Regions from separate parts of the Homo sapiens genome. Here all the other regions are reported to be linked to region 6. Evidence: microRNA targets listed by miRTarBase, many of them from high-throughput screens and not tested one by one. Region 6 holds a microRNA gene; each other region holds the end of a gene's coding sequence.

Evidence for each region. Region 6 holds the annotated microRNA hsa-miR-506-5p (UAUUCAGGAAGGUGUUACUUAA, at 3,186-3,207, shown strand). A microRNA usually pairs through its seed, bases 2 to 8, with sites in the 3' UTR of a target mRNA and lowers its output. Matches are read on the target gene's strand: a 7mer-m8 pairs with bases 2 to 8, a 7mer-A1 pairs with bases 2 to 7 and ends in A, and an 8mer does both.
Region 1: miRTarBase lists CCN4 as a target of hsa-miR-506-5p. Seed matches in the 3' UTR shown: 7mer-m8 at 4,054-4,060 and 7mer-m8 at 4,260-4,266.
Region 2: miRTarBase lists TFEC as a target of hsa-miR-506-5p. Seed matches in the 3' UTR shown: 7mer-m8 at 3,283-3,289 and 7mer-m8 at 3,317-3,323.
Region 3: miRTarBase lists IQGAP1 as a target of hsa-miR-506-5p. The part of its 3' UTR that is shown has no 7-base or 8-base seed match.
Region 4: the mRNA of SPTLC3 is a reported target of hsa-miR-506-5p. Seed matches in the 3' UTR shown: 7mer-m8 at 4,172-4,178 and 7mer-m8 at 569-575.
Region 5: the mRNA of SERTM1 is a reported target of hsa-miR-506-5p. Seed matches in the 3' UTR shown: 7mer-A1 at 2,396-2,402.

The regions. Positions count from the first base shown.
Region 1 is chr8:133,226,489-133,232,101 of GRCh38, forward strand. CCN4 (cellular communication network factor 4) reads left to right here. Exons shown (of 5, transcript NM_003882.4): 5 at 923-5,202. The coding sequence ends at 1,222. Among named protein-coding and RNA genes, the nearest start is that of CCN4, 38 kb to the left of the region's middle.
Region 2 is chr7:115,935,489-115,941,101 of GRCh38, reverse strand. It overlaps TFEC (transcription factor EC), which reads left to right. Exons shown (of 8, transcript NM_012252.4): 8 at 171-5,613. The coding sequence ends at 551. Among named protein-coding and RNA genes, the nearest start is that of TFEC, 92 kb to the left of the region's middle.
Region 3 is chr15:90,499,488-90,505,100 of GRCh38, reverse strand. IQGAP1 (IQ motif containing GTPase activating protein 1) reads right to left here. Exons shown (of 38, transcript NM_003870.4): 38 at 2,862-5,106. The coding sequence ends at 4,993. Among named protein-coding and RNA genes, the nearest start is that of CRTC3, 28 kb to the left of the region's middle.
Region 4 is chr20:13,164,056-13,169,055 of GRCh38, reverse strand. It overlaps SPTLC3 (serine palmitoyltransferase long chain base subunit 3), which reads right to left. Exons shown (of 12, transcript NM_018327.4): 12 at 1-4,302. The coding sequence ends at 4,189. It also overlaps a transcript of TASP1 not described here. Among named protein-coding and RNA genes, the nearest start is that of ISM1, 55 kb to the left of the region's middle.
Region 5 is chr13:36,694,866-36,700,478 of GRCh38, forward strand. It overlaps SERTM1 (serine rich and transmembrane domain containing 1), which reads left to right. Exons shown (of 2, transcript NM_203451.3): 2 at 41-2,974. The coding sequence starts at 214. The coding sequence ends at 537. It overlaps LOC102723490 (a long non-coding RNA gene), which reads right to left. Exons shown (of 7, transcript XR_001749825.2): 6 at 5,059-5,155. Among named protein-coding and RNA genes, the nearest start is that of SERTM1, 24 kb to the left of the region's middle.
Region 6 is chrX:147,228,382-147,233,994 of GRCh38, reverse strand. It overlaps MIR506 (microRNA 506), which reads left to right and starts at 3,152; the gene lies at 3,152-3,275. MIR507 (microRNA 507) reads left to right here and starts at 2,918; the gene lies at 2,918-3,011. All of the region lies in intron 2 of LOC105373347 (periphilin-1), which reads right to left.

The DNA.
Region 1 (5,613 bases), not on the chromosome of region 6:
ATTATTTTTCCCTGTAATACTAGCTTTTGTATTTTCTGCGCTTGGTATACAGTAAGCATTCCATAGACATCTCTTAACTGAAAACGTACATGGAAAAGGTACCAGCTGCAGAGGAATGACAGCAAAGGTCGTTAGCTGAGTGAGATGGCTCTACCATTACTGGACCACGTAATGCAAGTCCAAGCCAATTTTGATTTCCAACCAATTTTTTTCCAGAATTATGTGCCCTCAGAGGGTTTCCCAAATTGGGCAAGCTTCATGCCGCCATACAGCCTAGATCTAGCATACTATTTACACAGTAGACCCTGAGAACCCTCAATCCAATGGGTTTAGTAAGTGCCTACTCTGTACTAGGCATGGAATTATACCACAGAAACACAGAAAGAACAGTAAATCTCAAGTGGCCCATAGCCCAGTGGAAGGTAGCGTTACCTTTAATGTCAACCATTTGAATACGTTGAATACTAAAGGTATGTGTGAAAGGCCACGAGAGGCAAAGGCAGGAGGGGCGGTTAGGGCAAAGCGTGTCCCCTGAGTGTGGAGTCCCGATGCCAGTTCTGCCACTAGCTAGCCAGGGGAACTTGCTTGGATGAAGGAGCTACATAGGCTCCCCATGTTGGTGAAACCATGATGAATGACTGGCCATAGGCAAGACAAAAATGCAGGACAAAAGAGAAACTGCAGGCTGTGAGATACAACCCAAACAAAACATTTTTCTCTGTGGTCCTCCATTTACCCCTGTGCGGTATGCTGGATCTCACTGTGTTTGCTGTTGTCCCTCCTTGCTTGAGGATGCTGTGAAGCTGAAAGTAAGGTGGAATGCTCCCACATAGTGAGAAGGGAAAAACTGGGGGCTCAGGGGAAGAAGGTGGTTGTCCATTCTCTGAGCACTCCCACTGAAAGCTCCTTTCCTTTCCTTCAGGCAGGGAAGAAGTGTCTGGCTGTGTACCAGCCAGAGGCATCCATGAACTTCACACTTGCGGGCTGCATCAGCACACGCTCCTATCAACCCAAGTACTGTGGAGTTTGCATGGACAATAGGTGCTGCATCCCCTACAAGTCTAAGACTATCGACGTGTCCTTCCAGTGTCCTGATGGGCTTGGCTTCTCCCGCCAGGTCCTATGGATTAATGCCTGCTTCTGTAACCTGAGCTGTAGGAATCCCAATGACATCTTTGCTGACTTGGAATCCTACCCTGACTTCTCAGAAATTGCCAACTAGGCAGGCACAAATCTTGGGTCTTGGGGACTAACCCAATGCCTGTGAAGCAGTCAGCCCTTATGGCCAATAACTTTTCACCAATGAGCCTTAGTTACCCTGATCTGGACCCTTGGCCTCCATTTCTGTCTCTAACCATTCAAATGACGCCTGATGGTGCTGCTCAGGCCCATGCTATGAGTTTTCTCCTTGATATCATTCAGCATCTACTCTAAAGAAAAATGCCTGTCTCTAGCTGTTCTGGACTACACCCAAGCCTGATCCAGCCTTTCCAAGTCACTAGAAGTCCTGCTGGATCTTGCCTAAATCCCAAGAAATGGAATCAGGTAGACTTTTAATATCACTAATTTCTTCTTTAGATGCCAAACCACAAGACTCTTTGGGTCCATTCAGATGAATAGATGGAATTTGGAACAATAGAATAATCTATTATTTGGAGCCTGCCAAGAGGTACTGTAATGGGTAATTCTGACGTCAGCGCACCAAAACTATCCTGATTCCAAATATGTATGCACCTCAAGGTCATCAAACATTTGCCAAGTGAGTTGAATAGTTGCTTAATTTTGATTTTTAATGGAAAGTTGTATCCATTAACCTGGGCATTGTTGAGGTTAAGTTTCTCTTCACCCCTACACTGTGAAGGGTACAGATTAGGTTTGTCCCAGTCAGAAATAAAATTTGATAAACATTCCTGTTGATGGGAAAAGCCCCCAGTTAATACTCCAGAGACAGGGAAAGGTCAGCCCGTTTCAGAAGGACCAATTGACTCTCACACTGAATCAGCTGCTGACTGGCAGGGCTTTGGGCAGTTGGCCAGGCTCTTCCTTGAATCTTCTCCCTTGTCCTGCTTGGGGTTCATAGGAATTGGTAAGGCCTCTGGACTGGCCTGTCTGGCCCCTGAGAGTGGTGCCCTGGAACACTCCTCTACTCTTACAGAGCCTTGAGAGACCCAGCTGCAGACCATGCCAGACCCACTGAAATGACCAAGACAGGTTCAGGTAGGGGTGTGGGTCAAACCAAGAAGTGGGTGCCCTTGGTAGCAGCCTGGGGTGACCTCTAGAGCTGGAGGCTGTGGGACTCCAGGGGCCCCCGTGTTCAGGACACATCTATTGCAGAGACTCATTTCACAGCCTTTCGTTCTGCTGACCAAATGGCCAGTTTTCTGGTAGGAAGATGGAGGTTTACCGGTTGTTTAGAAACAGAAATAGACTTAATAAAGGTTTAAAGCTGAAGAGGTTGAAGCTAAAAGGAAAAGGTTGTTGTTAATGAATATCAGGCTATTATTTATTGTATTAGGAAAATATAATATTTACTGTTAGAATTCTTTTATTTAGGGCCTTTTCTGTGCCAGACATTGCTCTCAGTGCTTTGCATGTATTAGCTCACTGAATCTTCACGACAATGTTGAGAAGTTCCCATTATTATTTCTGTTCTTACAAATGTGAAACGGAAGCTCATAGAGGTGAGAAAACTCAACCAGAGTCACCCAGTTGGTGACTGGGAAAGTTAGGATTCAGATCGAAATTGGACTGTCTTTATAACCCATATTTTCCCCCTGTTTTTAGAGCTTCCAAATGTGTCAGAATAGGAAAACATTGCAATAAATGGCTTGATTTTTTAATGTCATTTTTCCCTCTTATAGTCTTTCTAGCTCCTTTTCAAAAGACGAGAATATCTGATTTTCTGATAATTTAGGTGCTTAAGCATCCAAAATACATGGGACACACAAAAATCCAGGAATCCCCTGTAGCTTATTCCCTCTTTCCCATCGGAACCAGCTCTCATCACACATTTAAAAGATGATTCTGTTTACCCAATGCTGCATATTGAATGTTGTGTAGTTATTCACAGGGAATTCTGTGCAGTGTGCAGAGAGATTCCTAAACGGGAAAAGGACTGGGAATACATCCTCCTTACTGTGACCTCCCCAAAACCTAGTCCAGTGCAAGGTATACAGTGGTGCTCATTAAATACTTGATGAATACAGGAAGCTGTGCATGTGTTCCTACTTTTATTCGAAGCTCTCTTCTTCCAAAGCTACATGAAAATAGAATTTTAACAGTCAAAATTTTATATTAAGTGCCTTAGCAAAAGAGACATTTAATATTTCAAAGAAATGCATATGTATGTATACATATATTTGTGTATGCGTATGCAAGAATTCTTGTATAAAGAGAATTCACTCCATGAATGATCTCTTCTGTAAGTCAGTGTGAATCATGTTAGATTTTCTGAGAGTGAAAACACCTGCCATCTACAAATTACAAGGCTGGATAACAGCTCACTCCATTTGAAATTCAGTGGAAACCCAAGAGCTAGGTTCTTACTGAATTTGCATCTCAATTTGGGAAACTGAACTTAGCTTTCAAAGATCATAGGAAGTCTGGTTGGAGAAACTAGGGATTATTCTGGCAATGGGTGCAGGAAGGTGGTCAGAATAACCCAGTCGCCATTGGTTTTGAGAAACGGAACTATCTTATGCAGAGCCCGGAGGGCAAGTCTCAGACCCATGGGTTGAAGCCATGGAGAAGGAAATTTGGATCCAATGTAATGAAGCGCTTTCTAAGTCAGAATTTCCCTGCAATGGTGTGGCCTGATTCAATAAAAATTAAGAATAATAAATATAATGGAAAAAAATCTCCACTGATTGAGTGTTTACTTGGTGCCAAGCACTATGCTAAGTTGTTCATTATTTTATTTAATTGTTACAGCAATTTTGAGTATGCATCTTTCACTATTTTATAAGTGGAAAAGAGAAGTGCCCCCAAAAAGTTAGAGCTCAAACAGCAGCTTATTCTACCAGCCCCTGCTCTTGCGGAGGCCTCTGGAAAAGACCTGAATGACACCTATTGGAGAATTACATCTACAAGGGGCTTCAAACAGACCAAATAGATCATCACCTCTGTGGTCCCTTGTTAACTATATGTTCTGAGACAAAGGAAAGCTACCCTAAGGGTTAGTTAACCTTTGCTGAGGAAATTTACATTCATACTTAGAGTGAATTACTCAGGTGTGCTTAGGTGTGCAAAAGGGAAGGAGACCTGAATTCACCAAGTTAAATCTTGCTAAACCTTATCATAAGCATTTTTTGAGCGCTTAGCATACACCAAGCCTTGTGGAAGGTGCTTTCCTGCCATATCTCATTTAATCCTCACAGCAAACCTATAGAATATGGCATTATCATCTGAGTCTCACAGAAGTTTAGTCGTGTACTCAAGGTCTTACCAGCTAGTGAACAGCAGACCAAGACTGGAAACCCAGGATAGTCTGATACCTGAGCCATCTCTTCTTGTGCTACGCCTAGTTATTCTGTCCCCCAAATCAAAAGGCATGACCTTTATAAGAGGCGCTTTACTGACAATAGCTGCAATTTTAACTTTGAAAATGATTCAGAATTATCAAAGATAGTAGATTCGAATGACATGATTGTCTATAATCTCGCTAGCCTTGTACTGTGTGTGCATAGCAATTACAGGGAAGTAATCTAGCTCCTGACTATTATGTTGAACTATGTCGCTGCTTTTTACAAACTTGTCTTGATCCAAAGCAGTCACAATGATAACCCTGCATATCTGGGAATCATAAGTCAACTATGTATCCCTGTGTGTGTATATATATGTATGTATGTATCTATTTTCAAACTGTGATTTAATATTTAAATATTCCTACTGCCATTTTTGTGACTGAAAAACTACACATGAGGAAACGTCTTAGAATTTTCCAATAGAGGAAAAATAACACTTGGGCAATCTGTCATGTTTCACAACAGTTCTCATTTTTCTCATGATTTGTGTAGCGTGGAATGTGTTTGCTCAATGTGAAGGGTTTTCATTGCTCAATTTCTCTGTGTAAGTCTTTTCCTTAAGGTAATAAACCATCAGCAAAGTCACATACTGGAGTTGGTGGCTTTTCTTGTACAGGCAGTTGTTATGAGACAATGATGGAGCATTGAGCATGTTCAATAAATGTGCAGATGGTGGAAACGAGGTCCCAGATACTTTATATACTGAAATTAAAATGGCTAAAAAAGTTTGGAAATGGGCTTAGAAACACAAATTTTAGAACTCAGAGAAGACAAGGGCTGCCAATGTATCCAGGCTGGAAGACACCTCATGTAAATATAAAATGAAATTTTTGGCATTCATTCATTCACTTACTCACATATTCACTGTCTGTCTACATCCCCAGCGAGACTGAGTATCATGAGGTCAGGGACTGTAACTGCGTCCTCTGAGCCTAGCTCAGAAGCAGGCGCATGTCAAGAACTGAGTAAGCAAGGACTGGATGGATGGACAGAGTATCTATTGCCAGCTGCCTCAGGAAACAAGAGGAGGAAAAAGAAGCCTAAGGGAGGGTACAGATGCAATGGAAACAATCCTGACTTTGGGCCTCAA
Region 2 (5,613 bases), not on the chromosome of region 6:
TGCATCAGAAATGTATCAATTTCATTATTTGCAAAGATTATTCATAATTTGTATTGTATTACTCTTCATTTTAAATGCTTGTTAATATTTTGATTCTATGTCTGGCTTATTCTCTAGTGTTAAATCCAATTTCAAAGACATTATTTAATGATTTTCGTTTGAAATTACAGGAACTAGAAATTCAGGCTCGTACTCATGGTCTGCCAACCCTGGCTTCACTTGGCACGGTTGATTTAGGTGCTCATGTCACCAAACAGCAGAGCCATCCTGAGCAGAATTCAGTAGACTATTGCCAACAACTGACTGTGTCTCAGGGGCCAAGCCCTGAGCTCTGTGATCAAGCTATAGCCTTTTCTGATCCTTTGTCATACTTCACAGATTTATCATTTAGTGCTGCATTGAAAGAGGAACAAAGATTGGATGGCATGCTATTGGATGACACAATCTCTCCATTTGGAACAGATCCTCTGCTATCTGCCACTTCCCCTGCAGTTTCCAAAGAAAGCAGTAGGAGAAGTAGCTTTAGCTCAGATGATGGTGATGAATTATAAGAAATAAACAGACCCAATTCATCAACTGGAAAGCAATTCTATGCTGGTGCTATGCAATTATGCTCTGTGTTTCATATGTTGCTTTGGCTTATTTTTTTTCTTAAAGGAATGTGTTGTTCATGAAAAACTGATAGAAGCAACAGAAGAATTCGCAGGAAGAAAAATCATAGTGTTAATGAATTATTGAGGGCGAAAAAAAGGTGTTTTCTTCTTTGACTACGGAGTCCAAATCCACTTAAATTCTGTTTTCCTGAAAAGAGGTACAGCATAAGAAATAGCTCTTTATTGATGTTTTAAAAGCAGCAACTTGGTGGTGTACTACTGGAACTAATGACTGCAAAGTGTTAAACGACTGAAATATACAAACAGTCTCTTAGTTACTCATTTCCATCTTCTCTTCAACTTTCACATCAGTCTTCCGGAATCAAGATCAACATATCAGGTGGTCATTGCCTTTCTCCATTGTCTAGTAGACATGTCTAAAGTTCAAACTTTATAGGATAAATAAATGTATAATAGATTATCTGTCACTTGTGGTTGAAAGGCAAATCTACAATAAATGTGAGAATTTTCCACAATAAAATATGGATAACTTATAAAAACATTGGTTACTAAAATTAGATCCTCATTTTATTGTAGTTGGTTCAATTACACTAATTCTAAAAGCATCCATGCATATTTATATCTCCAGTCTCTGTTCAGGAAAAGGAACATATTGAATATTTTCCTCAGGAATATGGACCAGAATTGTATCCCTTCACACAAACATACACATACACATATGCACATCATTCAGGTAGTATATGTTCTTTTGTTTTCTTCATGCTTCTGACTGCATCAGAATCACATTCCAAATTCTCTTTTCTTATGAAGAAGAGATGTCAGATCATCAATTTTAGTAAATAAAATATAAAATGTCCCCCTGCAAGGACAGTTTTCAGGTACTTAAAACTTTTCATCAGTATTGGACAGAAATCAATTAGTTGTTGATTTGGTTTTTCTCCAAATGGATAAAATATTGAAAATTGAATTGCCAATTGACAAAATAATTATTACAACAAACTATTTCTTATTATTTTCAGTTCTGAGAGGAACGTAAGGTTCTATTTCTATAAACACTTAGAGTGTCCTATGATCTTTGGTTGCACTGTTAGCATTTATTATAAGCACTTATAACTATGATGCTTCATTTAGATTTTTATCTCTTGCGCTTGTTTTAGGTTAGGAAATTAAGTTACCAAGCACGTTGCTCTGTGCTGGACCTCCAAGAGTGATCATCCGATCAATGAGTATTCATGGAGGCATACTCAGAACTGCAGTGAGTCCTGAGAAAATGTAGAAGAGTTGAAAAAGATATGGTCTTACTCCTAAGGTAGTTAATGAGAATGCATGAAAAACAAAAACAAAAGATAGAAGACATATAGAATAAAAAATCTAAGCATAAACTGTAAATACAGAAGGTCAGAGAAAATGAAAATGACTGACAAACTTTATGGGAACAGCAGAATTTGACTTCTCTTTGAAAGGCATTAATTGAGTGAAAGTGAGGGCATATAAAGGAATAATACCAACCAAATGATAAAAGTGAGAATAATAGGGGAAGTATCTTTATAGGACTTTAATTAGAAAGATCTGGATGCCCTAGAAGATGTCTGTTGGGGAGTTCTGAAGCATAAGACTGACAACAGGTTGTGAAGGCCCTTAGAAAACTATGGTGAAATAATATAGTATTAATATAATAGAAACAAATCTTTTTAGTAGCAGGGAGGATGCTAAAAACTAAAATATATATTACTAATGAGTGAGATGTAATCTTTCATGAATATTAAGCTTTGGGATAAATTTTGAAAGGATCTTTTAGTTGCTTCTCACATGGAAAATATGTCACTATGAAATGTGAGACCCTAATGCTGATAAAAGTAGAAAAATAGTAAATCATTATGGTATAATAATTATCTCAGGCTTAGCTTGTATCATTTGCTCAGAATTTGGAGAATTAAAATAATTTTATTGTTTGACATGGAAAAATAATTACTAACTTCTGGGTACAGTCATTAAAGCCTGATAGATAAATTCATCTGAAATATGCCATGTGAAACAGCTATTAGATACATCTTCTCAATAATTTTCAAGACGATATTACATACTTTTAATTTTATAACAAAATTCCACTTCATTATCTGAGTTGATAATTTGATTAAATGTTAAAAATTATAGATAAGGAATATATTTTGGAGTTCATAGAAAACACACCACTTTATTAGATAGAGACTGGCTTCAGTTCTCATTTTATCTGCTCTTCTCATTTCTTCATATTTTGAGTAGACTTGCACTGATGATGTCATTACTCAGTCATTATTTTCTGTTCTGTTAAGGTACAACTACTGGGCCTTGAAATCTATCCTTCACAATCTTGGCTGAGATAAGGACTTGGCACAGGATGATAGAGCCTGGACACAAGAGATCTGGAGAGGGAACTGCTATTTGCTGCTACATTCAGATTATGAGATGTCAGGGAACTGTAAAAAGGGTAATGAATTTTTAAAGAGAGTAAAGAGTTATGCTGTGTCCCGGTCAACTGAAATACATTAAAAATTAATTAGATGGTAGTTCTTAACTTTTTAAGGCAGATACCTTGAGAATCTAGTGAGTTATAGACCCTCTCCCTAGAAAAGTATAGAACTGTTTATATGGACAATAATTCACATGCATTCAGAGATCTTAGGGATCTCCTGAATGTTTTCTTGGATCCCAAGTGAAAAATTCCTGAATCAGGTCTCTTAGGTGTGCGGTTAATGTCATGTATAACAATGGGGGGACCCTTACTTATCTAAATATAATTATCCCAATCCTAATAATGATGAGGTTGCATAGGAAAGTAATAGTGTACCAAACTTTAGATTATTCACTAAAAAAGTTGTTCATTTATGAAGTAGTCGTTTATCAAACATGTCCTCCCCACTCAGCAAACTATGCCTTCTATTTATTATATATGGGTCAGTTTCACTATAATTACTGAGTGTTATAAACATCTGACCATAACATTTTGAAATGATGCAAATAAATTTCCAAACAAAAATAGTGTGAATTTAAAAGCAAATTATTTGAGTATCTAAGAAACAAGATAGACTTCTAGAAAAATTTGACTCTCTAGAATATTTCTTGCAGAAATGAGATTTTTCATAATAGTAAAAGAGGCATATGTTTATCAAACAATGCTGTCACAAAAAGCATCAACTGTAATGGGACTATTAATGCATAATTATTGATTTATTCATTCAATTAATATACAATTATCCCTTTTCATTTAAAGATTTAATTCATAATTACAATTATAATAAAACTTCCTTTAAAGTAAGATACAATAATTTTATTGTTTTTCATTCTTTTTTCAACAAAATATCCCATCCAATCATTTTTTATATTATTAAATATTGGCTGCTTTTTCTTGGATTCACATTAAACAGCCCTTTCCAACTTCCAATTGTCTTAAAATAATGATGACCTCCTGTGAGTAGATACAGCTCTTTACAATTTTTTTCTTTAGTGCCTTTTCTTCTTGAATTTTTCCTATATCAAATGGAGAATATATGTACAGATGGTATTTTCTCAGTTTATAGGCATATCAGTGACCATGGCTTTCTTTATATAGGTTTTTAAAAAAGCCCTAAATAATAAATAGCCAGATGAGCTGGGGACATTGAGAAATAGCCTTCCTCTTCCTTTTTCAACTCATTTTTTTCCCACCTACATGACTGTAAATCAAATATTTAATAGCTCTTACTTAAAAAAACAGATACAAAGAATGTCTTGATTTGGTGTGCTCATTTACCATAATGTCATGAGGGGAATTAGATTTCACAACTTTAAAAGGAATATATTTTTATTTTATTTTGAAAAACTGAGTCATATAGGAATTTTCTTATACTTCAAGGCATCATGGAAACACTTTTTTCCTGTTTGGATATTGTGGAATTTAAACGTTCAAATAAATAAATGGCATAACTAAGTGTTCCAAATTTTTTTACAATGTCTTTGACCCTATTCAAACACTTTAGGTATTTACTGACCGTCTGATGTGTAAGATGTGGAATAAAACTGGAATCAATTAATTATTTCACTGTGTTATCAGCGCAAGATCAACCATCTGGGTTTCTTAAAGACACCCGAAGGATTGAATTTTGTTTCAGTATTGATAATGGCATAGTCTCTATGTGCTACATGGAATTACATCATTTATCCCTCCAGTGCCCTATATGTTGATAAGTATGTCAGTTTGACTTAGTATACATATATACAGAGATTTCATTACATTTACCTAATAAATACAAAATACATTTCGAGTGTTACTGATCTCCTATGTTACATGAGCCTCCTGTAATCATTGTGCATTGATGTTCCAATGTTTTATTGTTTGTATGAATTTTAATTTGAAAACAAGGAAACAATCCAAAAGCAGAAAAAATAGCTTTTCTTAAAATTTTCAGTGCTACATTTTCCCTCTGAGGTCCATAGAGATTTGAATGTATAGGAGATTATCCGAAAACAGCTATTTTGATTAAAAAATATATCTCCCAGGATTCAACCAACTTAATGATGAAGTACTATTGTCTACTGCTTTATACATAAAAGGGAACTTTTTATCTGCTTGTAAAGGGATTTTTATGTGTATTTCTGCATAATCAGATGACTTCTATTGTGTTTTCTACTGATGAAATTCTCTGTAAAATGTCTTTTTCTTACATTATCCAACAGGCATAAAGAATAACAGTAAAGACTTTTGTGTTTGTAATACTACCTCTTTTATCCCTGCACTACTGTTTTATTGCAAAAATTCTATATTGTCACTGTATTTTTTCCATAGAATATAAATTTTGTTCTTGTGCTAAAGCTGGTAGTTTATGTAGCAGACAAAATATACAAATAAAAGAAGAGACTGATTTTGCTGAAAGAATTATATATAATCAAGAAGTTACATATTGTTCTTTAAATATGATACTGAATTTTAAAAGCAAACGAAATTCAAGAATCTTATCTAACAGCATAGCAGTTGCTTATGGCA
Region 3 (5,613 bases), not on the chromosome of region 6:
GATGTCCTTTAAAATATTTCACTAGGGTAAAATTCTGAAGGAAGCAGAGTAGAGAAAAAAAACGTTAAATTTGTAAAGATTTAAAATTTCCAGGGGCAGGCATAGTGGTTCACACCTGTAATCCCAGCACTTTGGGAGGCCGAGGTGGGCGGATCACTTGAGGTCAGGAGTTTGAGACCTGCCTAACATGGTGAAATTCCGTCTCTACTAAAAACACAAAAAATTAGCCAGGTGTGGTGGCAGCCGCCTGTAGTCCCAGCTACTCAGGAGGCTGAGGCAGGAGAATCGCTTGAACCTGGGAAGTGGAGGTTGCAGTGAGCCGAGAACACGCCACTGCACTCCAGCCTGGGCGACAGAGCAAGACTTCTGTCTCAAACAAAAATAAATAAAATAAAATAAAAAAGAAATAAAAAAGAAATTTCCAACTAAGAGCTTTGTTCATGTACCTTTAAAAATGAATGAAGGTGGGTTCCATTCGATATTTTTATGGTCATTTTTATATTAAAATTCACATGCTAGCAGGTACTCTTGATTTAAACATTAAAAATGTATTTGTCAAACTTAAAATGTGTGAAGGGATGTATACGTTTTCCCAAATTATTTTCAGGGATACACAGGCAAAAGAATGAGCAGCAGGGCTGTGACAACCCCGTCTCCCTCCCCGTTGGTGCAGTGGCACCACCAGCAGCAGCTGGGACTCCATGGCATTCACTCTGCCATTGCTCTGGGTTCCATCTTACTTTCCTACTTTTTTTTCTTTTTGTTTTTTGTGAGACAGGGTGTTGCTGTTACTCAGGATGGAGTGCAGTGGTGCAATCATGGCTTACCACAAGCCTCAACCTCCTAGGCTCAAGCAATCCTTCCGCCTCAGCCTCTTAAGTAGTTGGGACTACAGGTGCGCACCACCACGCGGGCTAATTTTTGTATCTTTGGTAGAAACAGGGTTTCAACATGTTGGCCAGGCTTGTCTCCAACTTCTGATCTCAAGCGATCCACCCGCCTTGGCTTCCCAAAGCGCTGGGATTACAGGTGTGAGCCACCACGTCCAGCCCCTACTCTGATTTTCCCTCTTATTTTTCTTATTTAATGTTGCTATACCTTGATAAGCTTTTTTTTTTTGAGATGGAGTCTCGCTCTGTTGCCCAGGTTGGAGTGCAGTGGCACGATCTCAGCTTACTGCAAGCTCCACCTCCCGGGTTCATGCCATTCTTCTGCCTCAGCCTCCTGAGTAGCTGCGACTACAGGCACCCATTACCAAGCCCAGCTGATTTTTTGCATTTTTAGTAGAGATGGGGTTTCACCGTGTTACCCAGGATGGTCTCGATCTCTTGACCTCGTGATCTCCCTGCCTCGGCCTCCCAAAGTGCTGGGATTACAGGTGTGAGCCACCGTGCCCGGCCGATAAGCACTTTTCTTTTTTTTTTTTTTTTTTGAGACAGAGTCTCGCTCTGTCCCCCAGGCTGGAGTGCAGTGGCATGATCTCGGCTCACTGCAGCCTCTGTCTCCCAGGTTCAAGCGATTCTCCTGCCTCATTCTCCTGAGTAGCTGGGACTACAGGCATGCGCCACCACGCCCAGCTAATTTTTTTTGTAGTTTTTAGTAGAGACAGGGTTTCACCATCTTGGCCAGGATGGTCTCGATCTCCAGACCTTGTGATCCACCCGCCTTGGCCTCCCAAAGTGCTGGGATTACAGGCATGAGCCACTGCACCCAGTCCTGATAAGCACTTTTCTAACTCCCTTGATTTCTTTGCAGGACAATATAGAGCATATTATTAAAATATTTCAGGTTTCAATAACAAAGCTACCAGACAGCATCCTTTCCATTTCAGAACGAGAAACCTGGGGCTCAGAAGGGTACCTTCCAGAGTCCCACCAGGAGAGCCATGCTCTTCCCCTCACTCTTCCTCAGAGGAGCATGCGGTCATCTCCAACCACTCGTACAAACCATCACCTCCAATTTTTCATTTTCCCTATTTTAGAATTATTCCGTTTCCCCCCTTATTTCAACCTGTCACTAATTTTCCAATATAGTCTGGCCACAGTTTACCAACACAACAGGATGCTTATGTACATGTTTGTATTTTTAAGTAAGGCTGCCCTCTGACAAGGAAGCCTTTTCTTTTCTTTTTGAGATGGAGTCTCGCTCTGTCTCCCAGGCTGGACAGCAGTGGTGTGATCTTGGCTCACTGCAACCTCCGCCTCCAGCTTCAAGTGATTCTCCTACCTCAGCCTCCTGAGTAGCTGGGATTACAGGCGTGTGCCACCACACCCAGCTAATTTTTGTATTTTTAGTAGGGGTTTCGTCATGTTGGCCAGGCTGGTCTTAAAACTCCTGATCTCAGGTGATCCGGCCCGCCTCGGCCTCCTAAAGTGTTGGGATTACAGGTGTGAGCCACTACGCCAGCCCCTTTTCTTCTTTTTTTACTGCTGTGATTTACTTTTTCCACATTCAACATCCCCTAGTCTTTTCTGGTGACTTCCAAGTGACATAGGAACCCCCTAAGGGGCACAGTCTATGTGCTCAACAACAGTATGCTGGTCAAAAAAGGTTAAATGCTGTTGCAATTTTAAACTTTCCACCGTTCGTCAATCAGAATTAAGTGACATATAATGTTTGCTTCCCGCAACACCCTTCTTTTTATGGTGAAGATAACTTAAGCATATTCATTAAAAAGGCTAAAGTCACACGTTCACACATTAAAAGTCACTTTGAGACATTCAATGATCTGATGGTGGACTTACGTTTTCTCCTTTAAAAGGAAGGGGTTGTCTGCTGTTGTGATTTTAACTGATACATCTCACTCTAGTCAAGGTGTTTAGCAGGAACTGTTAACAATGAAACTGAGAAAAACACAAACATGAACAAATGACCTTTTATTTCATACAGAGATACAAAGGCAACTATGTGCAGCAACAATCTGACGGGCAGTCCAAACTCTTGGGAGGAAGTAAATTCATGGTAAATGTCATGATGGCTGGTCGAGGAGAAGGTCAAAGGAGGAGAGAGAGGAGACAGAGAATGCTACAGCTAATAAATAACAGTAATGAGAACTGTGTGGTTTCAACGCCATGAGTTTGTTGGGGCATCCTCTGTGCTACTAAAGCCACAATTCTATATCATCATCATCAACATTCTTGAAGCGCATTTTACACTATTCTGCATTAGCAATTGTGTTGAGGGAACTATAAACCTTAAAATTACTGACACATTTTATTAAAGGAGCTGTAAACTCTGCTCATTATTGCCTGTCTTGGATGTGGCCTTTGGGATTCATAGCCTCTTTTAAGGAAACAGGGTTGACACACTTTGGTTGGTCCCAGTTTTTGAGGCAATGCTAGTTGTAATAGCATCATCTTTTAATCTGAGGAAAATGTTTCTTTAAAAAACCTGTCTTCCAAAATACAACAAAAAACAAGGTCTGGGTAGTGGCGAATCCTTCCATGGCACTCCATGCCTCCCTGTGGGCTGTAACCATGCACCTGAGTAAAGAGTCTCATAAAAATACTTCTCCAATGCATTTATAATAGGGACACACTACATAGTTTGTTATTCATTAAAGCAGTTTATTGGCTTAATGTACATCAGTGAATTTTTAAATGCTAAAAATTTATGATAAAAGAATACTGAATCAAAACATCAAAGAAAGAAAATAGAGGCTCAGCAGCATGATTTCAATATATTTTCCTGGAAAAAGTTTTTTTTTTTTTTAAAGTGTATGACTTTTTATCCAAGAACAAAAGCTTTCTAAATGCAATGTTTAGACTTGATTTTTTTTTTAAACTAAGCCCAGAAAACTGGGGCTCATAAAATAAAGGCACAATGTGGGCAGCAAGAGAAAAAAGGAGAAAAAATGGGGAAAAAATTGGTTTTAATCTCACGTGTAACATAGGTTGGCTGGTTTTGTTTTTGTTTTAGACAATTAAAGGCAGAATTATCTCCCTGAACACTGCAGATAAATCCTAGTGTTTTAGCTATAAGTTTCAAGAGTTCAGATATACAGATAAAGCAATTTAAAAAAAGCTTTTCTTATTCTAAGGCTTTTGATGCATTATATAAATCTTTAAAATTCCTATCACCCACATTTTAAGACATACATCTATACTTTAATAAGGCACTCTTAAGATATAAAACAGTTTTAAAAACAATGACATTCTACATTAGGGCTAACCCATTCCTCTGCCATAGGGATGGAGTGAATTGTCTCTCTGAATCAAGTCAATCTCTGTGCACCAACAAAAACAGGCAGGTGCCTTGACCCATTCTGAATTTATCTGAGTAGCTGAATTTTAGCAATGGGACTCTCCCATCCACTAGTCGGGGAGTTACACAAACAGAATTGCCCAAGTTTGATAATGAAATTTAAAAACATTATCTCCTTTTTTCTAGAAATGCTTCCTTTGAACATGACTGTCACTTCCATTAGCTCCTGTCCATAAAGAAAAACACAATGGAAGATAACCAATGATTCCCCATATCCTTCAGTTTTCCTGATGGGACAGAAATATAAAGGAACTTTATTTTTAAATGACAACCTAATAACTGTTAATAACATGACATTTTAGTTGTGTGTCTTGTATGTATTTATGTCATTGGTGCTAATAGCTTCCACTTCTAAATGACACACATTTGAATCCTACCATCCCTATTGCTAATTAAACAAACACCAAAGCTTACAATATAGTACTGCAACCTCTAAGACTGTAACAACACAGAGAAATTTTAGTGGAGTTTCCACTCTTTCCTAAGTAATGGAAGAAAATGAAGAAACCAGAAAGGTCAGACTAAGCCTGAAACACAATTTCACTATGAAAAAAGGGTAACAAATGTCCCATCAGAGCGAGAGGAGTTAAAAATGTGGCATCGGGAGTGTATCAGATTGAGGTGCTGTTGTTGGCTAGGTCTTTGCTTCCAATGAGGAAAGAAGGACCTAGAAAGGAGCTGTGAGGTGCTTCTTTCCTTCATCCTTCTGGGCTGGCAGCAAACGATCAATTACTTCCCGTAGAACTTTTTGTTGAGAAGGAAGATCAGGAGGTTGACATTTACTTTAGCTCTATCAAATAATTTCATGACTGCAACTCCTTCATACTGTAGCTGCAGCAGGTCCTATTAACAAAACAAAACAAAACAAAACAAAACATTTTGACAGTTAATCAAGTCTGTGGAACAAGGAAAAAGGACACAATGTAGGGAGGGATCCAGATGGACTGAGGCCTGCCTTGTGTGCCAGATGTGAACTGGGGCGAAAGAAAAGTTCCACGCTAGGCAACTACCCACTGCACAACCAGCCTGAGAGCTGGAGCAATAGGGCACATTGGCCAAGGGAGGCTTCTGGTTGATTTGGAGTTAGGAAGTCATGTTGTTCATATCAAAATTCATCATACATGGAAAGAAAAAGAAACATGTTCAATTGCCACACACATCTAAGCTTTTTATTTCAGAAGTCACAATGACATTTTCCCATTTCATCCATGTTATGGGTCACTAGTTTTAATAAATCTGGAAAAGGTGAAGCATTTAAACCTATGATGAAATATACTAAGCACGGGGAAATGAGATAAGGCTAGTAATGTCACCTTAATACTATCTGATAGATTCTTAATTTCTATTCCA
Region 4 (5,000 bases), not on the chromosome of region 6:
ACAATAAAGTGAAATTGGTCGTTTCAAATGTTTCAGTGAAACATACATTTCTCTCTGTCCTTCTCACACACACAAAGACACATGCACACACACACACACACACATGCACACCCCACGTACATCAGGACACCATAAGACAATGTCCCGCAATAATTACCTAAAAATATTTAAAATACAGACTCTTTAATTTTCTAAACATTATGCAGCTGAGTAGGGCATTCTAAAGAACAGACTTCAAATTGTTCTTACTGTTTTGAGACCAGGAAACATTGCCAAGAATTCACCAGATGCTGTTCTTAATTGCTGTTGTTACAATTGTTATTATTGCTATAAATCAAAATGTATATTTAAGAGTTAATGTTTCATCATCATCGGAACTTAGGTTTTTAAATCAGAGTAGGCCATTTATAACATTTGCTATCTCTGAAGAAAAATACAAAAGAATATTGTTCGTTTGAAGAACTGTTAAGACTTTTACCCTACTGAAGAGCTGTTGTTGGAATAAATAATCAGAGGTTGAAGGTTGTTTTTTAAAGAGCAGGAAAAGAAAACAGAAGAAAGATACTACATTCAGGCCGGGCACGGTGGCTCACGCCTGTAATCCCAGCACTTTGGGAGGCCGAGGTGGGAGGATCACCTAAGGTCAGGAGTTCGAGACCAGCCTGACCAACAGGGAAAAACCTTGTCTCTACTAAAAATAGAAAATTAGCCATGCTTGGTGGCACATGCCTGTAAACTCAGCTCCTCAGGAGGCTGAGGCAGGAGAATCGCTTGAACCCGGGAGGTGGAGGTTGCAATGAGCCGAGATCTTGCCATTGCACTATAGCCTGGGCAACAAGAAGAACAAAACTCTGTCTCAAAAAAAAAAAAAAAAAGAAAGAAAGAAAAGAAAGATACCACATTCAAAGCAAATGGGCATCTTATAGGGAATGATACAGAAAACTGAAGAAGGCATAATTTTACCCAAATGAATCGCAGATGGTTCTTCAATATTGGATCAATTTTTGTAGAAAGAGAAGTTACTTGGAAAATGGGAACAAAATGTCCCAATGAGAAGAGAAGGTTGACTGTGGAATAAATTAATTTTACCAGTATATATACACTTAATTATGAACAAGAGAATCAGAACAAGGTTCCTGCTATTAGAGTCAATTGGTTTATCAAATTAGAGTTTGAATAATGTTCTTAAATTTTGGCATAGATTAGAATCACGCAGGAAGGCTGGTTAAAAATGTAGATTCCTGGGCACTACAACTATTATGTTTCAGTAAAGGTCTGGTGTAGGGCCTAGGGGTATGGATTTTAGCCAGCTTCCTAGTAAATTCCAAAGCCTGTCGTCTCTGTAAAATCAAAGCATGCTGAAAGGCAATATGGTTAAACGTCCATGACACCATCGTTTCATAATGAGATTAGGAATAAGTCTATGCCATTTCCTTATTATACAGAGATAGCCTCCTTACAAATATCATCTGGAACCTTTATCTTCTGCTTTCCTGAGGTCATTTTCAAGAACATCTTCCATTTATTTCTCAACCAACCAGATTTTCATAGTTGCTTACTCCGTAAAGGAAAAATGCATATGTGTATGTGTGTGTGCATGTGTGTAAATGTGAACAGAAGGGCTGAGTGCGCATAACATTATAGAAAATTCTCTTTTCCAACAGATCTAACCAAAGACACATTTTTGGCTCTGATATAATTAGAGCTAAGGTCGGGGCGGTGATGTAGAGGGTAATGGTTGATGATATAATTATCAAGACTCAATAATCAAATAATTTTAATCATGAATTAAAATCATGAATTAAAATCATGAACTTATTAGCCTAGCATTTGAGAGCTTTTTCTTAAAAAAATTAAAAATCTCATTATTCACAATCACCCTCCTAATTAACCTTATTCTATATGACATATACTCTAATATTATTGGCCCTGTGGAGCTTGGGCACCTTCTAATGCACTGTGGAAGCATTCTACTTGGATTATACCTGTATATCAACAGTTGTTCTCATACCTGTATATTCAACATGGACTCTCTAACAGAAACAGGTCCTTTTGTTTTGTACATTGCAGTGTAATAAATTGCCCCTGTACTCTTGAATCTTGATGAAAAGAGACTAACTTCCTCCCTGCCTTCCATGCTGGGTAGGTAAGTAGTTTCCCACAATGAATTAGACCCAATATCCTCCATGAAAGTAATAATAGTGGACATTCCTGCTCATGAAGACACATGTCTAGGGGCTTAAAACTTGAAGTGTAGATGTGAAGGTGTGTGTAAACATCACAGACAGATCCAGAAAGAAAGGAAGATGTTTATTGCTTTCCATACCTTGTGGAAGGACTAGATATCTCGCTGTCTTTTTGACCTCCTGTTTCCTTTATAGAACGCAAGGCATTTATGCATTTTGGACAATTCATTTAAATGCACATATTCAAGATAAGAACAGTATGTCTCCCTTTCTTTGCATATTTATGACACATTTTATTTGCACAAATAATACTGCATCAGTTTCATTGAGAAAAGTTGGAATTTTGTTATCAAAATCATTGGATGGGAAACTGCATTTTCAGAACCCACTTCTTTTCCTCTTTCACTAACGGTATTCCTTACAACTTGTAAACATTCATGAAGAACTCTATCATTGTGATCCATTTTTAAACCAATGCACCCACTTGGAGTTATAATTTCCCCATAAAAACTTTCCATGCTGATCACTTTTTTTCCTTTAATACGCTTTGAGCATCAGGGCACACTGCTCCATCCATCGCAGGCGCTGCGGGTGGAGTTTCTATCTCAGTGCACAGCATGAAAGCTTGGGTCCATCTGTGCCACACAAAACCAAGCCTCTCTTGAAGTGATTTGTTTACAGTGTCATTTGATGGAGTGGAATGTTCTGCAACTCATTCGAACTGTTACAGAAGCTTTGCTAAAAGGTCACCACTGCTCTCTAGAATTTCCAAATCTGGGCACCCTCTGGGAGCTTGTTAAAGATAAGGTTCTCCATGGGCTTTTTCCATACAAACTAGATCAGATTAACAAGAGGCTACTTTTCCATAGAGGTTTGTGTTCATGTTGAGAAGGAGAGCAAGAAAGAGAGAACACAAGTAAATTACAGTTAGTTACCTCAAAGTGTGCAAGCCCACTTTCTCCCAATTCAGAGGGCATGTAACAAGTGATAGTACAATTTAATAGGCCTAAACAAGTGTGTTGGTCTTGAAAAAGTCAGAATTTGCTTTTAAATGTCCTTCTTGAATCAATGCATTCTTCAAATATAGTCTTGGGAGTCGATTCTAAAGGACACTGAATTTCACCATTTACTCAAAATTCAATAGGAAAATGACAACTAATTCCTTAAGGTAATAGAGGCTGTGCAGGGTAAGCATTCACCGTGCACTGCACCAACAAGGTTCAAATTGTTGTAACTACCATTTTAGTCTAGACCTAAAAGTGTCTTGTGCTTGCTTTCTGCCCCTTTTCTTATGAAACAAACATCTTGAATTTTCCAAACCTCAAAAGCTCAGCTGTAAAACTGTAGGAGACCAGCAAGAGGAAAAGGAAAATTTCCTTCAAAGACGTCTCTAGTCGCAGTTGATCAGTTCTGCTTTCCCCCTCGAAACATTAACTATGTCTTTTGACACTTGTCTGTGAAAAACGTCCAAATGTGACAAATGGTAGAAACAACATTTCTTTACCCTCCTGCCTGGAACTTCCCATGATACAGATGAGATCTAGCTGATGCTTTTATGAGTGGAACAAGGAAGGTGGCTACTGTCCACCACACTCACTTACATCTGCAGATGGAATAAGTAAACACATAGTGAACTTACTGAATAAAAATTTTAAATTCTCTCATTTGCATTTGGTTGGAATCCCTGAAAGGGTCTGCACAGTAGCAGCTAAAACACAGGCTTATTGCCATTAAAAATATTCTCAGAAGTGTGTGTGTGTGTGTGTGTGTATTTCTAGTAGAATACTTGGAAGAAGAGAGACTTAAATCTGGAATCATGTTTTTGTCTCTGCAGTCCAAGCTGGAGACATTAAAAACAACAACGTCTCCCTCAGTTCAATCAAGCTGGTCTGGGAACCAAAATTGTCCTGAGGAAGGGGGAGAAATCCATTTATATTCCTTGTGAGGCAAGGAGGGAGGTCTTTCTCGCAAAGTCTTTATGTGTCATTCAGGACCAGGAAACTTAATCTTCGAGTTCAAAGCTCGTCTCATCATAGAGCTCAGGACGTGCTGACTTCTTGTGCCGGGAATATTTCAGTTGCAAGAGATCACCCATTTCATCAAGAGCTTCTAAAACCTGCAATGAGATTGCTTTCCAATAGCTATCATTGAACACCTAAGTAGCCCTGCTTTGCAGAGCCCAGATTAATAGCAAGCCTCACAAAGACACACAGTCTTAGTTTGCTAGCTTCTTTGATTTTAAAGAAAAGAAGCAAGATCCGTACCATTAGGTTGTGGTTTAAGACCCTAGAGGAATGTTAGATGCTAATTAATTTTATTTAGTGGTCTAACTCCATACTATGAATGTTTATTTTATTTTGAGAGTGTGAAGAGAAGAATAAAAACATGTGACCCATGCTTACCCTTAAAAGGTTTTATTTTAAAATGTAGTGACTTATATGTAGTCTTGTGGAAGAAAAAGATAAGGTTGCAGAATGCATTTGAAGTTATATCTTCATGACACAGCAAATCACCTGGCCAAGAACAAAGAGGAATGTTGCGGGAGCTGATTAACATCATCCTCTGTCCTCTCATGCTACCCCAGGCCTCCTGCTTTTAAATACTCATCTCTGTGTCCCAGAAAATACTAGAACTTAACTCACAGGGACTGAGAACTTGTCTGTTTCAACTCTCTTACTTTAGGTGGGTACATGTATCCCCCATTTTGCACATGAAACAAATGAGATCCAGGAAGTAAAAAAAGGTCATTTTCTGAGAACACATGGACACAGGAAGGGGAACATCACACACCAGGGACTGTTGTGGGATGGGGGG
Region 5 (5,613 bases), not on the chromosome of region 6:
ATTTTTCTGAAGAATGCACTGACTTGCTTTTTTTTTTCAGTCTCAATGCACATCTGATACCTGCTGCCTTTGAGAAACAAGTTTTGTTGTGCTGATTTAACAGCCTGTGAATTCTGCAAACACGATCGTGAAAAAATGCCAATCTGTCCTGTGTAAGCCCTGTGTGAAGTTTTGACTTTAATCTACCAGATCACTCCTTCACCCTCCATAAAGATGTCTGAACCTGACACTTCCTCAGGATTTTCGGGAAGTGTGGAGAATGGAACTTTTCTTGAGCTGTTTCCCACATCCCTGTCCACGTCAGTGGACCCATCCTCAGGCCACCTGTCAAACGTCTACATCTATGTGTCCATATTCCTCAGCCTTTTAGCGTTTCTGCTTCTGCTTTTAATCATTGCCCTCCAGAGGCTCAAAAATATCATCTCCTCCAGTTCCTCCTACCCAGAGTATCCAAGCGACGCTGGAAGTTCTTTCACCAATTTGGAAGTCTGCAGCATTTCCTCTCAGAGGTCCACTTTTTCAAACCTTTCATCCTGAGGAAAATGGAAGAGTCCTTGAGTGTGGCAGCAGTTTTGACATCCCCTTACGGAAGTGTCCCGTGAGGCATTGCCTCATGAAAGAAATGATCCTTTTGGTGTAGACCTGCTTCTCCTTCTCCTTTTTCTCTGATTTCTTTTCTGTTCATGATGCTTTTCATTTGGGGATGGAGACACCGATGTTGGTGGAAATGTGTGCAAACCCCAAGGTGCAGAATTTCACACAAATGGCTTGATGAATCTAGACTGGGCTTCTTCAGGTAAGTCAGTTCATTCTACTTTGTTGGACGCCGTAGGCTCATCTGAGGTGGCCTCTCCGTGGATGCTGGACATGGACTCGCACTTCATTTCTTTTACAAAGCCGTGAAATCAACTGAGCCTGCAGAAACTGGCAAAATCAAGTCTGACCTATGTAGAAGTTATTTTCCATATTTAAAAGATAAAGTGGAGACACCAAACTTAAAAAGGAAGAGAGTCAATTTAGATTTAATGTATGACATTTCTAAAACTGAGGGTAAATATATGCTAAATATTTTCTTTAACTTCACTTTAACAAGTAAAAATCACACTTATTGATGAATGTAAGTCATTTGGGAAAGTTTTGGAAGAGTTTACATTTTAATAGCAAGACAAACATGTATTATGATGGAGCTTGTGATGTATTTCTGCCTCCTGGAGTTTTATTTTGTTTTTCTGCTTATGTTTTAGTCATAATGCCACAAAGTTGTGGAATTTTTGTGATTAATTGCTGTTACTAGTACTAAGAGAAGCACCAGAAGAGATGCCAAGAAGTTTTTATATGAATAATTTCTATCAGTGAGAATTAAGCATATGGAAAATATTCATTTAGTTGTATTTTATACAGTAATAACTCTTAGCTGTCGTGTAAGTTCCTTTATTCGGTTTCATAGTCTTTATAATTTTAGTGCAGAATTATATTAAGCCTCCAAGATGTCTGATATTTGTTCACTCACATTAGGTTGTAAAACTTAGAAACTAAATTGCAAATATATGTGTTATTATATACTCCACGAATGTTGCGTCTCTGATAATTAGTTGTTGTATGTTAACATAATACTCTACATTAGGATTTCAGGATGTGAGTTTGTATTAAAAATTGTAGGCACTCAAGTTGTGTAGCTGCTGGGAGCTTTAGGGATCCTAGGAGCTGCCGTGCTGCAGGCAGCAGAGTATGTCTGAACTCGGCGGGCGGGTGGCAGGGGCTGTCTGTGAAATTAGGCACACATGTGAGCTCAGACATGGAATGTGGAGGAACTCAAGCTGCCCCTAAAAACAAAACAATCAAACTGCAGCTCCTTAAGAGTAAGAATTTTAATTTAATTTTGAAAATAAATGGCCCACAGGGTAAACACTGAACTTATTCAACCTACAGGAGGCCACTGCATCAACACGCCACGGTCTTCCCATGGCAACTGAATCATTCCTTGTTCAAAACATTTAATCATCTTAAGCAGTGGGGCTTCAACACACCGTTTGGTTAGATTGTGCAGTCAGCACTCTCCAGTGATTAGAATGGGGGAAAGAATCCACTATTTGTACAGGGTTTATCTTTATCATACTAAAATGCTGAGTGAGTGGAGGTCTGGGAATGAAAATCAGAAGTCTTCTTCTTCTTTTAATTCATAAGCCTCACTTAAATCAGAACACATTTAACTATTTATATATCAAAAACGTCCCCAAACACCATAAGACCAGCACAGAGTTGCTGCCCTAAAATGTATAATTAGTGAAAAATTTACCTCTGCTTCCATTTAAAGCATGGCAGTGGGTTGGGTGTCATTATGTAGTATAAAAACTGGACTAGATAAACTGCTATTTTAGAGCATTATTAGCATTCTCTGAATATATGTATATATACATATATATACGCACACACACACACACACATAAATATATATATATATATATATATATAAACTCACATACTCCCAATTAAAAGTCGTGTGAAAGCTACACAGGATTACAGAGGCATCTATATTATCACTTTTGCTCTTTGACTAATCCTATGCTGTTTTTGTTATAGAGAGAAACAAGGACATGGATGAAGTGATTTTTTTTTAAATAAAAGGACAAATTTGCCACACAACAGAACAATCTGAGTATGATCTGTCCTCAGGGTATCTTTATATCCTTTCCATGTGAAAGAGATATAAAGAATTCTGACAGCAAAACTACTTTAAAAATCAAATCAAATCAAATCCACAAGCACACTCCCATTCCTCCCCTGCCGCAATGGTTCTTGCTCTCAATGTTTAGTAGAGAAATTAAGAGCCACATTCAAAGATGGAAAATAAGATTTGTCATTAGAAGCTTGCCAAGGTAACAGATTGTACAACTTGAGATGAATTCATGTTGTTTAAGAAGTTCAGAAAGGTTGGAAGATGGGTTTATAAATAAAGAAGTGGAGTCCATTGAAAGCCTGGTTCTTTGATTCTTTTCCAGTGAGGTGATTTATAATCTCTTCTAGAGAAGAAGCTTTTCCTAAGAGTTTTAAGCATACACCACACACACACAGAGACGTATAGACATATATTTACATATAAATATATCACTCCTTTTCTGTACGTTCTGTCTGAAGCAGGGTCAGTAATGTGTGACCCAAATGTCAGCCTCTCCCCAGCCCTGCAAGGATCACCTCCTTCTGCGACAGTGAGTCCCACATTTCCCAGATGAGAAGAACGATCTGGGTGCTTCGACAATATAGAGGATCCCACGCCACACCCCAGACCTTCAGGAGTGGAGCCAGAGTATTTCTGGATATTTTTAACAAGGACTTCAGGTGATGCTGATGATCAGCGGGGAAACTGGCAGAGGAAGGATCACATATATTGTGCTTACGTATTTGCAGAGGACAGGGGTCTTACCTCTCGGCCACTGCCCTTGTAACTGCAGTTGCTCCCAGCTGAGCATCCCCTGCACAGCTCAAAATCCCCACTGGGACCTACTTTCCTGCTCCAGTCTGAATCCAGCCACCCTTCTCCTCAATGGAAAGCTGCTGCTGCTGCTGCTATTGTAATAAACTTGGTGGAAGAGGGAAGTGCAAAAAGTCACATGTCTTTCTTGTCCTGTCTCTTAATTCCCCACAAGATGATATGCATATAACAGACTAGGTTAGAGGACTGGGGGTAGCTGACAGGATTTATAAGATGAGAGAAAATATTTTACATTGAGTACTAAGTAAGACTATTCCCACAGTCCAAAGGAAAACAACAGCATAACTAGGAAAACATTATCTAGGAGAAGCACCAGTTTCTATCCTTGCTCCCCTGTCTTGAAGTCAGCCTCCCACCCGTCTGAGAGAGGCTGCCACTTCAATCTAATGCCAGGTCCCACTCTCCGACTCTCTGTTAGAAAGTCCCCTGGGATACGTTCCTATCAGTCCAACACCCTGGACCTAAGACTTCAGAGAGTCTGAGTTATTCAAGAGAGAATACTCCCAGGCTGTGTGAGGATGGGTGTGGTATGGATGGAGTCCTGGAGGGAGGTCTGTAGCAGAGGAGTTCACGGTAGGCTCTGGATCTCCCAGGACCAGCTCTCTGCAGTATCTCTCCATCAGTGAGAGGACAACTGTGCTTCTCTTGCTTCCTGGTTATCCAGCCAGCCCAAGCATGCATTTGTGTGCATGAACACACATACACACACACACATTAACTCAGACATACGCTCTCCTTCACCCACACATACACCATCCAAGAACAAACCATCATCCCCAGTGTTCGAAGACAGCACCTCAGTTTTCAAAGTCCACTTACTTCAATTTCCCCCTGCCTTCAGTGATGAGCTGAGCACAGTAACTCCCTCTCACTCAACCTTCTCATTCAAAACCATGCCTAAACATCTACCACTTAGTAAGAAACATTTCCTACTAATACTGCTTTTCATAGCAACAGTGCTCACTAGCCCCTGTAGTCACTTCTGACTATGCAGAGACCTCATCAAACCATTGCAAGTATAGCTTTTCTTTATGTTGGATTGGGTCCACTCTGGGTTAGGGTGTTTGCCACCCTGGACACTGTAATAAGACATTATTATCAATGGGAATTTATTAAATAAATGAATAGAAGTGGTGTTTGGTTTTCTGTTCCTGTGTTAGTTTACTGAGGATAATGGCTTCCAGCTCCATCCATGTCCCGGCAAAGGACACGATCTCATTCCTTTTTATAGCTGCATAGTATTCCATGGTGTATACGTACCACATTTTCTTTATACAGTCTATTATTGATGGGCATTTGGGTTGATTCCTTACCTATCTAACAAACCTGCACATCCTGCACGTGTACCTCAGAATTTAAAATAAGAATTAAAATAATAAAATAAAATAAATGAATACATCCTTTGGCACTAGATAAAACAGACAGATATAGTTCCTGCCCTCACGGAGCTTATAATCTAGTAAGGAAGATATAAAAACAAATGAACAAACAATATGTATAATTGCAATTGCCATTAGCACTGTGAAGAGAATAAAACTGTGAAATAATAAGCAACAAGGGAAACTCACCAGGCATAGGTGGTCAGGGAGGGCCTTCCTGATGAGATCATAGTATTTGAAGGGTGTTGAGAGTCTTCTCCACAAAGGGATAGCGTCTACAAAGGCCCTGTGGCAGAGAAAGGCTAGGCTTGTGAACAGAAAAGTCAGAGTACTGGGATCCAGAGCATGAGTCTAGAGAGGTGGGCAGGACAGACTATGTAGGAACTGGTAGGTTAAAGTAGTAACTTGGATTTTATTCGGAGGGTGACAAGAATCCATTGAAGGATTTTAAACAGGTAAGTTATATAATTGAATTTTTGTTTCAGAAAGATGACTGTAGATGCTTTGTAGAAAATAAACCAGAGATGGACAAAAAGTCCTATTCAGATCCACCCTGGGTGGGGTATGGGAGTGGGTGGTGAGTTGTTCTCCCAGCTACAAATATCTGCTCATCTTCTAGCCATGGAAACGGCCTGAGCTGAGAATGAGTGTTGCCACACACACCCCTCCCTCCTCCTCCCGTTTCAACCACGCTCTCACCTCCCTCTCTCCCTCTCCTGGTCTCTCTGTCTCTGTCTGTCTGTC
Region 6 (5,613 bases):
CCCCTAAATCAAAATAAATAGGGAATATTATACATCCTCCCTGAAAGATTCCTCCTGCCTCTTTGTGATCCTCATTTTCGGTCTTCTGCACATAACCACAGAGCCATGCAGCCACTAATCTGCTTTTATTCACTATGGATTAGATTTTATTTTCCAGATTCTTATTTTTTATTTTTTGAGATGGAGTCTCTCTCTGTCACTCAGGCTGGAGTGTAGTGGCGTGATTTCGGCTCACTGTAAATTCTGCATCCCAGGTTCAAGCAATTCTCCTACCTCAGCCTCCCGAGTACCTGGGACTACAGGCGCACACCACCATGCTGAGCTAATTTTTGTATTCTTAGTAGAGACGAGATTTCACCATGTTGGCCAGGCTGGTCTCAAACTCCTGACCTCAACTGAACCTCCCACCTCAGCCTCCCAAAGCGCTGGAATTACAGGCATGAACCACGGTGCCTGGCCAAAATTTTTTATTAAAATGGAATCATACTGTATATACTGTTTATTTTGGCCTAGCTTATTTCTCCTGGCATAATTATTTTGAAATTCGTCCACATTGTTATTTGCATCAATAATTTATTTGTTTTTATGGATGAGTAGTATTCCACTGTATGGATATTCCAGTTTTTTTTAAATGCATTCACCTGTTAATGGCCATTTGTCTCCAGTTTATAGCTATTTTGGCTTTGACTACTAGAAAAGACGTAGCTATGAACCTTGATATAAAAATATCTGTATGGAGAGGCAGAAGGAGAGAAGGAGAAAGAGAGGGGAGGGGAAGAGGAGAAAGGGGAGAAGGGAGAGGGTGGAAGAGGGAGAGAGAAGGAGAAGGGGAGGGAGGGGGAGGAGAAAGTAGAGGGGGAGGGAGAACCAATTCCTGGAGCCCACAGGAAGCACGACCTGGGAAGCAAGGTGTAAATGTTACATGTCCATATCAGAGGATGGGATAGAATTTGATAGTCTGCTGCTACATTATCTCCCAGGAAAGCTCTTTCAAATCATGTCTTTCTTGGTGTCTAGTTGGCAACTGATGATGTGTGTGGATTTTGTTTTTGCAGTGGCCAAATACCTCACTTCACCCAAAGTCATGAGGAAATACAGGCTGTAGTGAAGAGGTGGGAAACTGTTCTACTTTGTTTTCTATCATTGTTTATTATGATACCTCATCTGTTTACTTCTCAGTGTCCACTGCTCTCCTTCCTACACTCGCAGCATTTCTCAGTGCAGTGTCGTCTATCCCTGATACGTGCTAGATTTCCTTTGAACTTCGTTCTCTGTTTTGTTTGGGATTATTGGAAAGTAAAGTTACATTTTAGTGTATTTGTTTTTATGTTTTGGGGGTTTTTGTATTGTGTATGTTCTTTTTGATTTTTGTTATTGTATTGCTTGTTTGCTTTTTTAGGGTTTTTGTTTCCTGTAGAATTTTGTATATTTGGATGTGTTTTGTATATTTTGTGTGTTTTTTTTTATTCCGATTTTGAATGGTGTTTTTAAATGTGTGTTAATTAGAATTTTCAGTAGTATTTTTACATTCTTAAAAATTGTTACTCCCGGCTGGGCACGGTGGCTCATGCCTGTAATCCCAGCACTTTGGGAGGCCGAGGCCAGTGGATCTCCTGAGGCCAGGAGTTCAAGACCAGCCTGGTCAACACGGTGAAACCCTGCTTCTACAGAAAATACAGAAAATTAGCTGGGTCTGGTGGCACATGCCTGTAATCCCAGCTACGTGGGAGGCTGAGGCAGGAGAATCGCTTGAACCCAGGAGGCGGAGGTTGCAGTGAGCTGAGATTGTGCCATTGCCCTCCAGCCTGGGCAACAAAAGCAAAACTCTGTCTCAAAAAAAAAATTGTTACTCCTTTATTGTTTTTTTAGTTGACACATAATAATTTGTAAATATTGATGAGATATAGTGAGATGTTTTGATACATACATGCATTGTGTAATAATCAAATCAGGGATTTAGTATTTTCATTACCTCAAACGTCCATCACTTCTTTGTGGGAAGAACATTCAAAACCCTCTCTTCTAGTGATTTTGGAATATACCATAAAATATTGTTAACTAACTATAATCAATCACTCTTCTGCACAATAACACATCAGAACTTTTAGCCCTCCTAACTGTGACTCTGTACCCATAAACCAATTTTTCCCCAACCCCCCTTTCCCTTCCCTTCCCCAGACTCTGGTAACCATCATTCTACTCTCTACTCCTATGAGATCAACTTTCTTAGACTCTGCGTATGAGTCAGATCATGCAGTGTTTGTCTTTGTGTTTGCATTGCCCTATTTTGTGAGCATTCGTTTTGGGGTTGTTTGTTTCATTGTTCACATGTTTATTTGCATGTGTGGCATGCATGTGTTCACATGTGTTGCAGATATTTCTTGGTCTAAACACTGGTTTGCAAGTGCATGACTGTGGTGACTACTGCTTCTGCTGCTGTAGGCCTTCATCTCTGAACAGAGGATGCCAAACCAAGGCCCCAATGATATAAAGAAGATTCAAATTGGAAAGAAGAGAACTCTCCAGCACTGCTTCAACTGAGCTCTATCTGGCCTGCAATCGCTAGATATGATGAGTCACTTGAGTGGTCCTTTCTATGTAATGACTGGCTTTTGAGGCATATGAAGTAGTTGTTCATGTGCCAACTATATTAAATTGAAAATTAGCAGAACAATTTAGTGAAGTATGCTAAGTCTGGGAGGAAGAGGGAAAATTTTCTCTCTCCTAAAATCTGTCTCATTAAATGTGCAGCAGGTGAAGTAATTAATAAGCATTCAGTGAAAGACATAGGAGACAAAAGGGAGAGGAAAAAGGGTTTGTTTTTTTTTTAATCTATTGACTATATTCTGCTTATTCCTAGTGGACTGAGAGTGTTGGGATTCTGACTGAAATGGCGGAGTGAGGGACATTTTCCGCTGTGCTGTGTGTAGTGCTTCACTTCAAGAAGTGCCATGCATGTGTCTAGAAATATGTTTTGCACCTTTTGGAGTGAAATAATGCACAACAGATACAAGTCAGAACTACCCACTCAGTGATGGGTCAACTCATACAACCCTTTAAAGAGAATTCTGTGGGGTAAAACCTAGAGGATGAGGTTCTCTGGGAATAGCCTCATCTGTAGTTTCCCCGTGTTACTATTAAGATGGTCAGTGCCACCACCATCAGCCATACTATGTGTAGTGCCTTATTCAGGAAGGTGTTACTTAATAGATTAATATTTGTAAGGCACCCTTCTGAGTAGAGTAATGTGCAACATGGACAACATTTGTGGTGGCATTGGTAATGACGAGTGGAATTTCAGTGACAATACTGCCCTCCCTTGAGCCTTGGTACCCAACCTTTAGTGATGAGCCATTTCCAGGTACTCTCTGAAGTACCTCTTGAGAGATCTGCTCCAGAATCTGAGGGTGCCTGGGAAAAGTCTCTCATGTAGGTTTTTCAATTATTTATTGCTTTTTCTCCACAAAATGACTGACTACACTGGAAACAAGATTTGAGGTAGGAACATGATACTTCTTTTTCTCTTGTACCTCTTAGTCTTTTCTCTCTATAACAACCCAAATACACTTCTTGCCTTATAAACCCCTGAGAAGTTTACACTGATCTTCTTTCCTCACAATATTTAAGCCTTCTTTTTAGGGAGCACAAATATCCTCCTGCCCTTCCCTGCTGAACTCCAAACTCCATGAACCATCTTTCTTATGAAGTGATCTCCTCAAGGCTTAGATACACTCAAATTCCCTTTAATATTCCTGTGTATCCGTGATGATAATCTCATATCAGTGGAGTTTGATATGATACCCCAAATTTGCTTTCATTTGAACTATTTATATGTTTTTAGCTGGTCTTAACTATTATGGGAACGGATGAAGTGATGAGAACATATATGTATGAACATGTGTGTACATATACTTCTGGAAACTTTACATATACAAAGGGGTTTATATATCCCTTTATATATATATATATATATATATATATATATATATATACACACACACACACACACACACACACATACATATGACATTCACAGAAAAAGGAAAAGGATGCAGAAAAAGGATCATGTTCCTACCTCAAATCTTGTTCCCAGTGTTTTGTAGTCCTTTTGTGGAGAAAAAGGAATAAATGCTTAAAAAACCTACAGGACATACTTTTCACAGGTACCCCAGGCACCCTCAGATTCTGGATCAGGTCTTATAAGACCTTCAAAGAAACACCCAGGACAATGATTGAGCAAATATATATGTATATAATTATTATAGAAGTCTATTTTTAAAATAAATCCCTTAAGATATTTATTATAAGGATACTGCAAGGAATAACCTCAGGCAACTATGGAGGCTGGTGAGTTCCTAGATCTGCAGGGGGATGGGTCAGCAAGCTGGGGACCCAGGAGAACTGATGGTATAGTTGCAGTCCAAGTCCAGAGGCCAAAGAAGCAGTAGAACAAACCATTTTGTAGTTCCAGTCCAAAGGCCAGCAGGTTTGAGACCCAGGAAGAGCTAATGTTTTAATTTGAGTACAATGCCAGAAAAAAATGAGATGCCCCAGTTTGGAGGCAGTCAGGCAGGAGGAATTCTCTCTAACTTAGGGGAGAGTCAGCCTTTTTGTTCCATTTAAACCTTCATCTGATTGGTGCAGGCCCATCCATCCACATTAGGGAGGGTGGTCTGCTTTACTCATTCTACTGATTTAAATGCTAATGTCATCCAAAAAGACCTTCACAGAAACACCCAGAATAATGACTGACCAAATGTCTGGGCACTCCATGACCCAGTCAGGTTGAAATATAGAATTAATCATCACAAGTTCACTCCTTGTCATGTTGTCACTTATACGCATCTCCTTAAATTATATTTAATCATCAAATGAGAAAAATACCAAGGTCATAATTTCATTTAATAAGATACAACTACCATTTATACAACCCAGAATTCATGAACCACTTCACCAGAAGAGGAGATAAAGTCCTGGAGTGTTGTTTGTTTACTCTTCTCCTTGGTGTTCCATAACATCAATACTATGATTATTTAAAGTTAACAACGGTTAATAACTATGATATAATATCAGTACACCTTACGTTACATGATAAGGGGATAAGAGAGACAAGAAAACACAGAAGTATATTAATAAAAATATAAGTAGAAAATACTCATGGGAACTACAATTCTCATTTCTGTAACTGTCATCTGGTGTTAGCTGGTATTTACAACTACTTTTCTTCACTACCCATTTTGTATTCCCTTTGCCTTCAGCAAGCACCTCAGCCATTATATTTTACCTGGTAGAGTGACCCAAACTTTCATTTCTGAAGGGTCTGGGCCATTAGTAGTCCTGCCAGGATTGGGTTGTTGTAGTTTTCTACTGACCTTAATCACAAGGCATAGTAATACTAAGAGACATCTTATGTATTTCAGAAATATTCTTCCTTACCTCCATTGTGGAGTAGTACTCCAATTTTCCCTTGGTAGTCAGAATCACCTGCTCCAGGCCACACAGTAACTCCCTTCTCTGACCTCTTAAAAAATTAGGAAATATTGTATTGACTTTTCTCTTTCCGTGTTTTCAAGATATCTCTTCTTAAACTATGGCTGTTACGAGAGAAAGAGA